2 separate regions of the Homo sapiens genome follow, and region 1 is linked to region 2. Evidence: fine-mapped expression QTL. A gene starts in region 2. The other region holds a variant in brackets. All regions are shown on one strand. Distances are from middle to middle.

Region 1 (4,178 bases), 42 kb before region 2:
GCTGTGGGACACCCAGGGCCGTGACACCAGTGACTGCAGAGACTGTGGGACAACACCCAGGGCCGTGACACCAGTGACTGGAGACTGTGGGACAACACCCAGGGCCGTGACACCAGTGACTGGAGGGACTGTGGGACACCCATGGCCGTGACACCAGTGACTGGAGGGACTGTGGGTCACCCATGGCCGTGACACCAGTGACTGGAGGGACTGTGGGACACCCATGGCCGTGACACCAGTGACTGGAGAGACTGTGGGACACCCATGGCCGTGACACCAGTGACTGGAGGGACTGTGGGTCACCCAGGGCCGTGACACCAGTGACTGGAGAGACTGTGGGACACCCAGGGCCGTGACACCAGTGACTGGAGGGACTGTGGGACACCCATGGCCGTGACACCAGTGACTGGAGGGACTGTGGGTCACCCAGGGCCGTGACACCAGTGACTGGAGAGACTGTGGGACACCCATGGCCGTGACACCAGTGACTGGAGGGACTGTGGGTCACCCATGGCCGTGACACCAGTGACTGGAGGGACTGTGGGACACCCAGGGCCGTGACACCAGTGACTGGAGAGACTGTGGGTCACCCATGGCCGTGACACCAGTGACTGGAGAGACTGTGGGTCACCCATGGCCGTGACACCAGTGACAGTGACTGTGGGACACCCATGGCCGTGACACCAGTGACTGGAGAGACTGTGGGACACCCATGGCCGTGACACCAGTGACTGGAGAGACTGTGGGTCACCCAGGGCCGTGACACCAGTGACTGGAGAGACTGTGGGTCACCCAGGGCCGTGACACCAGTGACTGCAGAGACTGTGGGACACCCATGGCCGTGACACCAGTGACTGGAGACTGTGGGACACCCATGGCCGTGACACCAGTGACTGGAGAGACTGTGGGTCACCCAGGGCCGTGACACCAGTGACTGGAGACTGTGGGACACCCAGGGCCGTGACACCAGTGACTGGAGAGACTGTGGGACACCCATGGCCGTGACACCAGTGACTGGAGAGACTGTGGGACACCCATGGCCGTGACACCAGTGACTGGAGAGACTGTGGGACACCCATGGCCGTGACACCAGTGACTGGAGACTGTGGGACACCCAGGGCCGTGACACCAGTGACTGCAGAGACTGTGGGACAACACCCAGGGCCGTGACACCAGTGACTGGAGGGACTGTGGGACACCCAGGGCCGTGACACCAGTGACTGGAGAGACTGTGGGACAGCACCCAGGACAGGGCACATGTACCAAAGACCCAAAAGACAGAGTGGGACATCAGAAAAATTTGAGAAATACTCCTTCAGAAATGGAACTCTAAGAAAGCAAAAGAAAACAGAAATATCTGCAGAAATAACAGTCAAGACTTCAAAATCTGTTAAAATGCACCCACCCTCAGGTCGAAGTAGCTCAGTTTAGAAAGCTAGACCCAGGTGCATCACAAACGGCCAAAGTCCAAAAATAAAAGAAAATCATGTATATAGTCAGAAGTAAGAGATTTCACAGTAAGGAAAACAGAATGAGAAAATTCCTCATCAGAACAGTAGAAAACAGCATGAATAGAACCACCTTAACATGCGCAGAGAAAAACACAGTCCACTTAGAACCGTATATCCTGTAAAAATGCACTTCAAAAGAGGAGGAGGAATTAGGGCCTTTTGATCCACGTAAGAGCTAAGCCTAGGCAGAATGTCACTGCAGAGGAACTACAAGGCAATATATATTAAATACGGCACTTCAGACTCAAAGAAAATTATCCCTCTTGGCAACACGGAGTCTGAATGAAGAACTTAAGAGCGCCAGAAAGGTACGAAAATGTACACATCTTCAAAGGCTATGGAAAACAAGATCCCACTACACACCTATTCGAATGGCCAAACACAAAATACTGACACCACCAAACACTGGGGAGGACATGGGCCTCAGGAGCGCTTACTCATTGCTGGTGGGAGTGAAATGGCAGCTTCTCATTAAACACGGTCTCATCACACGGTCCGGCAATCAGGTTTCTTTATTCATCCAAATGGGCTGAAAAGTTGTGTCAAAACAAAAACCTGCACATGGGCGTTTACAGCAGCTTTATGAGTAACTGCTGAAGCTTGGAAGCTGCTAAGATGTCTTTATGTGTAACTGCCAAAGCTTGGAAGCTGCTAAGATGTCTTTACGCGTAACTGCCGAAGCTTGGAAGCTAAGATGTCCTTCAATAGGTACGTAGATAAACAAGCTGCAGCACACGCCCAGGATGGAGTATCATCCAGCGCGAAAAAGAAATGAGCCATCAAGCCACGAAAAGACATGGCGAAGCCTTCAGTGAATATGAAAGAAGCCAATCTCAAAGGCTACATACTGTACGTGTACACCAAAGCACATCCTCATCAGACACCTCAATACACCAAAGCACATCCTC[G/A]TCAATACACCAAAGCACATCCTCATCAGACTCAATACACCAAAGCACATCCTCATCAGACTCAATACACCAAAGCACATCCTCATCAGACTCCTCAATACACCAAAGCACATCCTCATCAGACTCCTCAATACACCAAAGCACATCCTCATCAGACACCTCAATACACCAAAGTACATCCTCATCAGACACCTCAGTACACCAAAGCACATCCTCATCAGACACCTCAATACACCACAGCACATCCTCATCAGACTCAATACACCAAAGCACACCCTCATCAGACACCTCAATACACCAAAGCACATTCTCATCAGACACCTCAATACACCAAAGCACATCCTCATCAGACTCAATACACCAAAGCACATCCTCATCAGACTCCTCAATACACCAAAGCACATCCTCATCAGACTCAATACACCAAAGCACATCCTCATCAGACTCCTCAATACACCAAAGCACATCCTCATCAGACTCCTCAATACACCAAAGCACATCCTCATCAGACTCCTCAATACACCAAAGCACATTCTCATCAGACACCTCAATACACCAAAGCACATCCTCATCAGACTCAATACACCAAAGCACATCCTCATCAGACTCCTCAATACACCAAAGCACATCCTCATCAGACACCTCAATACACCAAAGTACATCCTCATCAGACACCTCAATACACCACAGCACATCCTCTTCAGACTCAATACACCAAAGCACATCCTCATCAGACTCAATACACCAAAGCACATCCTCATCAGACACCTCAATACACCAAAGCACATCCTCATCAGACTCAATACACCAAAGCACATCCTCATCAGACTCCTCAATACACCAAAGCACACCCTCATCAGACACCTCAATACACCAAAGCACATTCTCATCAGACACCTCAATACACCAAAGCACATCCTCATCAGACTCAATACACCAAAGCACATTCTCATCAGACTCAATACACCAAAGCACATTCTCATCAGACTCAATACACCAAAGCACATCCTCATCAGACACCTCAATACACCAAAGCACATCCTCATCAATACACCAAAGCACATCCTCATCAGACTCCTCAATACACCAAAGCACATTCTCATCAGACACCTCAATACACCAAAGCACATCCTCATCAGACTCAATACACCAAAGCACATTCTCATCAGACTCAATACACCAAAGCACATTCTCATCAGACACCTCAATACACCAAAGCACATCCTCATCAGACTCAATACACCAAAGCACATCCTCATCAGACTCCTCAATACACCAAAGCACATCCTCATCAGACTCAATACACCAAAGCACATTCTCATCAGACACCTCAATACACCAAAGCACATCCTCATCAGACTCAATACACCAAAGCACATTCTCATCAGACTCAATACACCAAAGCACATTCTCATCAGACACCTCAATACACCAAAGCACATCCTCATCGGACTCAATACACCAAAGCACATCCTCATCAGACTCCTCAATACACCAAAGCACATCCTCATCAGACACCTCAATACACCAAAGCACACCCTCATCAGACACCTCAATACACCAAAGCACATTCTCATCAGTCACCTCAATACACCAAAGCACATCCTCATCAGACTCAATACACCAAAGCACATTCTCATCAGACACCTCAATACACCAAAGCACATCCTCATCAGACTCAATACACCAAAGCACATCCTCATCAGACTCAATACACCAAAGCACATCCTCATCAGACACCTCAATACACCAAAGCACA
Region 2 (4,178 bases):
TACCCAGCACCCCACTCCTCCGTCTGACCAATGTTCCCTGGGCGCCCACTCTGGGCTCAGCAAGGCAGTGGCGTGGTGGTTAACCTGAGAAACAAGTTCCACCTGCCTCCACCCACATGGAGTTGCTAGTTTTGGACACAGACAACAAACAAGTGGACATGTATGGTACCGAGAAGAGAAAACAGGGCGCACGGGCTCTGCAACTGCGGGTCAGGGAAGGCCTGGGGGGCCTCAGTCGAGGTGGAACCATCGTTGGCAGCCCCCAAATGGGTAGAGTGCACCAGCAAACAGGAGCCCAGGGCCCTAGAGTAGGGGGCAGATCCGTGGGGACCACCTCACAGGGCTGTGGGACTCAGCAAGGAGGAGCATTTTATCCCAGGGACCATGAAAAGCCATGGAGGGTTTTAGGTAGGAGCAAAAGATGGTGCTCTTAGGTTTTTAAAAGATCAATCTAGTATGCCTGAGAAAAGTATGAAGCATTCCCGTCTGCCACTGTGGTGCTTATGATTATTCTGGGATACTGATACAGAATAAAGTAGCTAGTACTGATCACGTGCTATAAAGTTACAAATTGCCACTTTTACGGGTTAAAAACAGTGGAATATCGTCAACTTCACAAGATTCAACTTCCATGTACAAGCCGTTGTGGCAGGACCTCATCAGACCTCCTAGCTCTGAAGGGTGACCATTAAACTTCCCATTTCAGAGATGAGGAAAAGGAAGTTCTGAGTCACTGGGCAACCTGCCCAAGACCACACAGAACAAGTCCGGTGGTCAGACAGCTTGCCATGGCTCCTCACGCTCAGCACCTCATACTTGTTGGTCCTAACCCACCCACGTCTCTCTCTGACCAGACTCTGCATCCCTGTAGGAGAGGCCCTGTCTGCTCCATTCACTCCCAGATCCTCAGGCCGAGGACAGAGCGGGACCTCCTTAGAAAATCAAATCAAATTCACTCAACAGGGCACCACCCCAAAGTGTAAAACAGGGTTAACAGGAGCAGCCGGACCACAAGCTGCTGTGCACATTTACGGAGCTCAGCCTAGAGCAGGGCAGAACAGCCACATGGCAGCTCTGGGGGAGGCTGGCTTGGGAGTCTGACTTGTGCCATCCCAGACACAGAGCTACCTGTCAGGCCACGTGTGTTGCCCAGATTCCAGGAGCACAACTCATTCGACCACCACGTCGCTGCAGGGCCACTGGGAGACGCGGCTTCTGCCTCCGACCCTGGAGGACAGCCACCATCTGCATGGGGACTCAGTCTCCCTAAGCGTCTCAAGAAGAACTAATTCTCGATGAAGGAACTGGCCGGTGGTCTGGCCTAGTATCGAGACACCTACACCGTCTTTGGCATAAACACAGGGCCTGTTACTGCCCCTGAGGTCGTCACCAGGGGGAGAGAATGGCCAGTCCTGCCTCCCACAACGCCCAAGACATAAACACGCAACGTGGCACCACGGCCAGGCCGCAGTTCCAATCCCGGCTTCCCACGAGGCGGCTGTGCCTGGCTGGGTGGGCACCTTTTCCTTTGGGCTCTATCCCAGAGATAGGATCAGCTCTTGAGTCTGCCCGCCTGTCGTAACTTCTGCGCACAGAAGTCATGCACTGAGTCCCACTGACTGAGCACCTCGCAGCCGCCGCACCTTCACCTACATTATCTCTTTCCATCTTCACCAGGGCCCTCCAAGGTGAAAGCAAGTCCACACAGGCTCATCCACCACTCCAAAATCAAAAAAAGCTTCAAAAGCGAAAGTTTCTTCCTTCCTGGTTTGACCTGACACGAAGCTATCTGTTGTCTTATCCTAGACAGTCCTAGGTGGGTTTGATCAAACATCACAGTCCAAAATCCCACAGATCCTCAAATTGGAAAAATTCTGGATTCCAAAATATAGCTGGTCCCAAACATTTCAGATAAAGGGTCCCGGGCTTGTTTCCTGGACGAGGGAGGAGGCTCCAGAAGTAACTTCGTGCCCGGGAGAGGCTGGTCCAACTCTTCTGAGATCAGCCCCGACGCTCTCTAGGCCCCGGCAGACCCACCCACCCTGCGCCCAGTTCGCGCCAGGCGGGTCCGCGTCGGGAGTTCAAATCCCGCCCGGGGTCTGACCCAGCCCCGCCGGGGGGCTCGCGGGCGGCGGAGGCGCGGTGGGTCCACCGGGATCCCGATGGGGAGCGCGGGGCGCCTGGCGGCCCCAGCACTCGGCAAAGTTGGCAAAGGCGCGGGAGGGGAGGCCTGCGCGCCGCGGGGCCCGGGCCGGGGCCGGGAACCGGAGCCGGACCCTGGAACGGAGCCGCGCGCCCACCGGACCCCCGACACCAGCCCCGCCCCGCGTCCCTCCCCTCCCCCACCCCGGCCCCCGCCCGCCCCGCGCCGCCGCGCATGCGCACTGCAGCCCGCGATGTGGCAGCCGGGGGAGTTGGGGGGTGGGGGCCGGCCGGGGGCGGCCGCCGATGGAGCCCCGCGCCCCTCCGGCCCCGGACGGGCCAGGCGCCCCGGCCGGCCTCAGAGCTCCAGAGCGGGGCTCTCCGTCCCTGGGGCCCACGACGAGGCCGAGCCACGGCGGCGGGGGGCGCGGACGCGCGGGGGCGGGGGGCCGGCTCCCCCGGCCCGCTCACTCACCTCCGCCATGGCCGTGTGTGCGCGGGAGGCGGTGGCCGCGCCGGGATCCCCGGATGAGGGGCCGCGCACTCATTGGCTGTGGAGCCTGGAGGGCGGGGCAGGGGGCGGAGCCTGGAGGGGGCGGAGAGCGGGCCGGGCGCGTAGTAGGTGCGCGGGCGCGGGCGCGGGCGCGCAGCCGAGCGTGGCCGGCGGCTTCTGGCGAGCTTGCGGTGTCTTTCCGGCCGTCTCTGCTGGACCCTGATCTTGGCCTTGGCCTTGGCGGAGGAGACTGCATTCCATAAAAATACGAATTCCTGATAATCACACCTGCGTGGGGACCACGTGGTCCTGTGTGACCTCTTCATTCCCTCGGCTGCTCGCTGTTAATACCCCGCGTGGCAGACTAGGAAACTGAGGCCCAGGGCGACGGGCCACCCAGAGTGTCAGTGATAGAGCCAGAATTGGTGTCCGGGCTGCGTGGTTCTGGAATTTTCTGCACTTTCGCACCCGTGATGAGCAAACTAGCGCGCGGAGGAACCAATCGGGGAGCTTGCGAACGCGCACCAGTCGGAGAGGTTTTAGAAACGGTGGCCCCGCGCCGGAGAGCCCAAGGCGGGAGGCAGGGAGGTGGGCTTGACCCCAGGGCCATTTGGTTCTGCAGTCCGTCGTTTCGCAGATTGAACATTTCTGGAACACGTGCACGTTCTGATCCTGAGGGTTTGAAGGAGACAGCCCTAACGCCTGTCTTCAGGGCGTTTAGAGTGGAGGATGGGAAGGCAAGGACTCGCCACACCTTAAATTTGAGACGGATAAGTGCCGTGAATCTTCGGGGCGCACGATGCAGAGAGAGGATAGGAAGCAGGGGTGGGGCGTGAAGAGGCAGGGGCCAGGTGGGAGCTGTGGGGCCTGGACCAGAGTGCAGAGAGACTTGAGAAGGTGGACACCACAAGACTCGCTGATGGAGGGAAGCTGGAGAGAGTGAAGGATGGCCTCCAGATGTCTGGCTTGCGCAAATGAGTGGAGGGCGGTTCCTACTGAGACCAGGAAGAAGAGAACTGGAGACCAGGAAGAAGGGAATTGGGGACCAGGAGGAAGGGAATTGGGGACCAGGAAGAAGAGAATGAGTCTCATTCCTGTTTCCCAGTGATCAGCCAATGAATAGTGAGAACTTGACATGCATCAGCCTTGATTCCTGATGCAAAATCATTACTCAGTCCTCTGAGAATTCACCAACCAAGAGATAGAAGAACCACTCTGGAGGGGTCTACCCTCACTCCTTTTTTGGTTTACATCATTGAGATTGAGGGTTCTGGCCCTCGTGTTGAAGAGTCCTCACTGATTTGTGCAAGAGTTGGTTCCTTCCTTTATTATTCATTTGTTATTATTCATTCAGTCATTCAGTGAACTAAACACATATCTTATGCAGTCCTCAACTGGGTGCTGGGTAGCCAGAGGTCCTGTGAAGCAGGGAGAAGCATGAACAGATAAGAGAGTGAGGTGCTGTGCTGTAACAGGTGGAGGGGCCCGAAGACAAGGGCTTGAGTCCACCTGGCAAAACGAGGGAAGACTCTTAGGAGAGGGC

Alleles and levels. Positions count from the first base shown, and alleles are read on the strand shown. Sizes are in standard deviations (SD) of each study's normalised expression.
In carriers of allele G in region 1, the expression in CD4 T cells of the gene that starts at base 2,640 in region 2 tends to be lower than with A alone (large effect, 0.93 SD a copy in Kasela 2017).

What was found. PIP is the estimated chance that this variant, and not a neighbour inherited with it, causes the effect.
Region 1: its variant is fine-mapped to the expression of MIER2 in CD4 T cells (Kasela 2017, PIP 0.95).

The regions. Positions count from the first base shown.
Region 1 is chr19:300,077-304,254 of GRCh38, forward strand. LOC124904605 reads right to left here. Exons shown (of 2, transcript XM_047439789.1): 1 at 3,317-4,178; 2 at 2,006-3,250. The coding sequence ends at 2,345. Among named protein-coding and RNA genes, the nearest start is that of PLPP2, 11 kb to the left of the region's middle. The variant G/A (reference allele first, on the strand shown) is at 2,420.
Region 2 is chr19:342,157-346,334 of GRCh38, forward strand. It overlaps MIER2 (MIER family member 2), which reads right to left and starts at 2,640. Exons shown (of 14, transcript NM_017550.3): 1 at 2,618-2,640. The coding sequence starts at 2,626. RefSeq lists an enhancer at 745-1,696 and silencers at 2,005-2,114, 2,415-2,464, 2,535-2,984.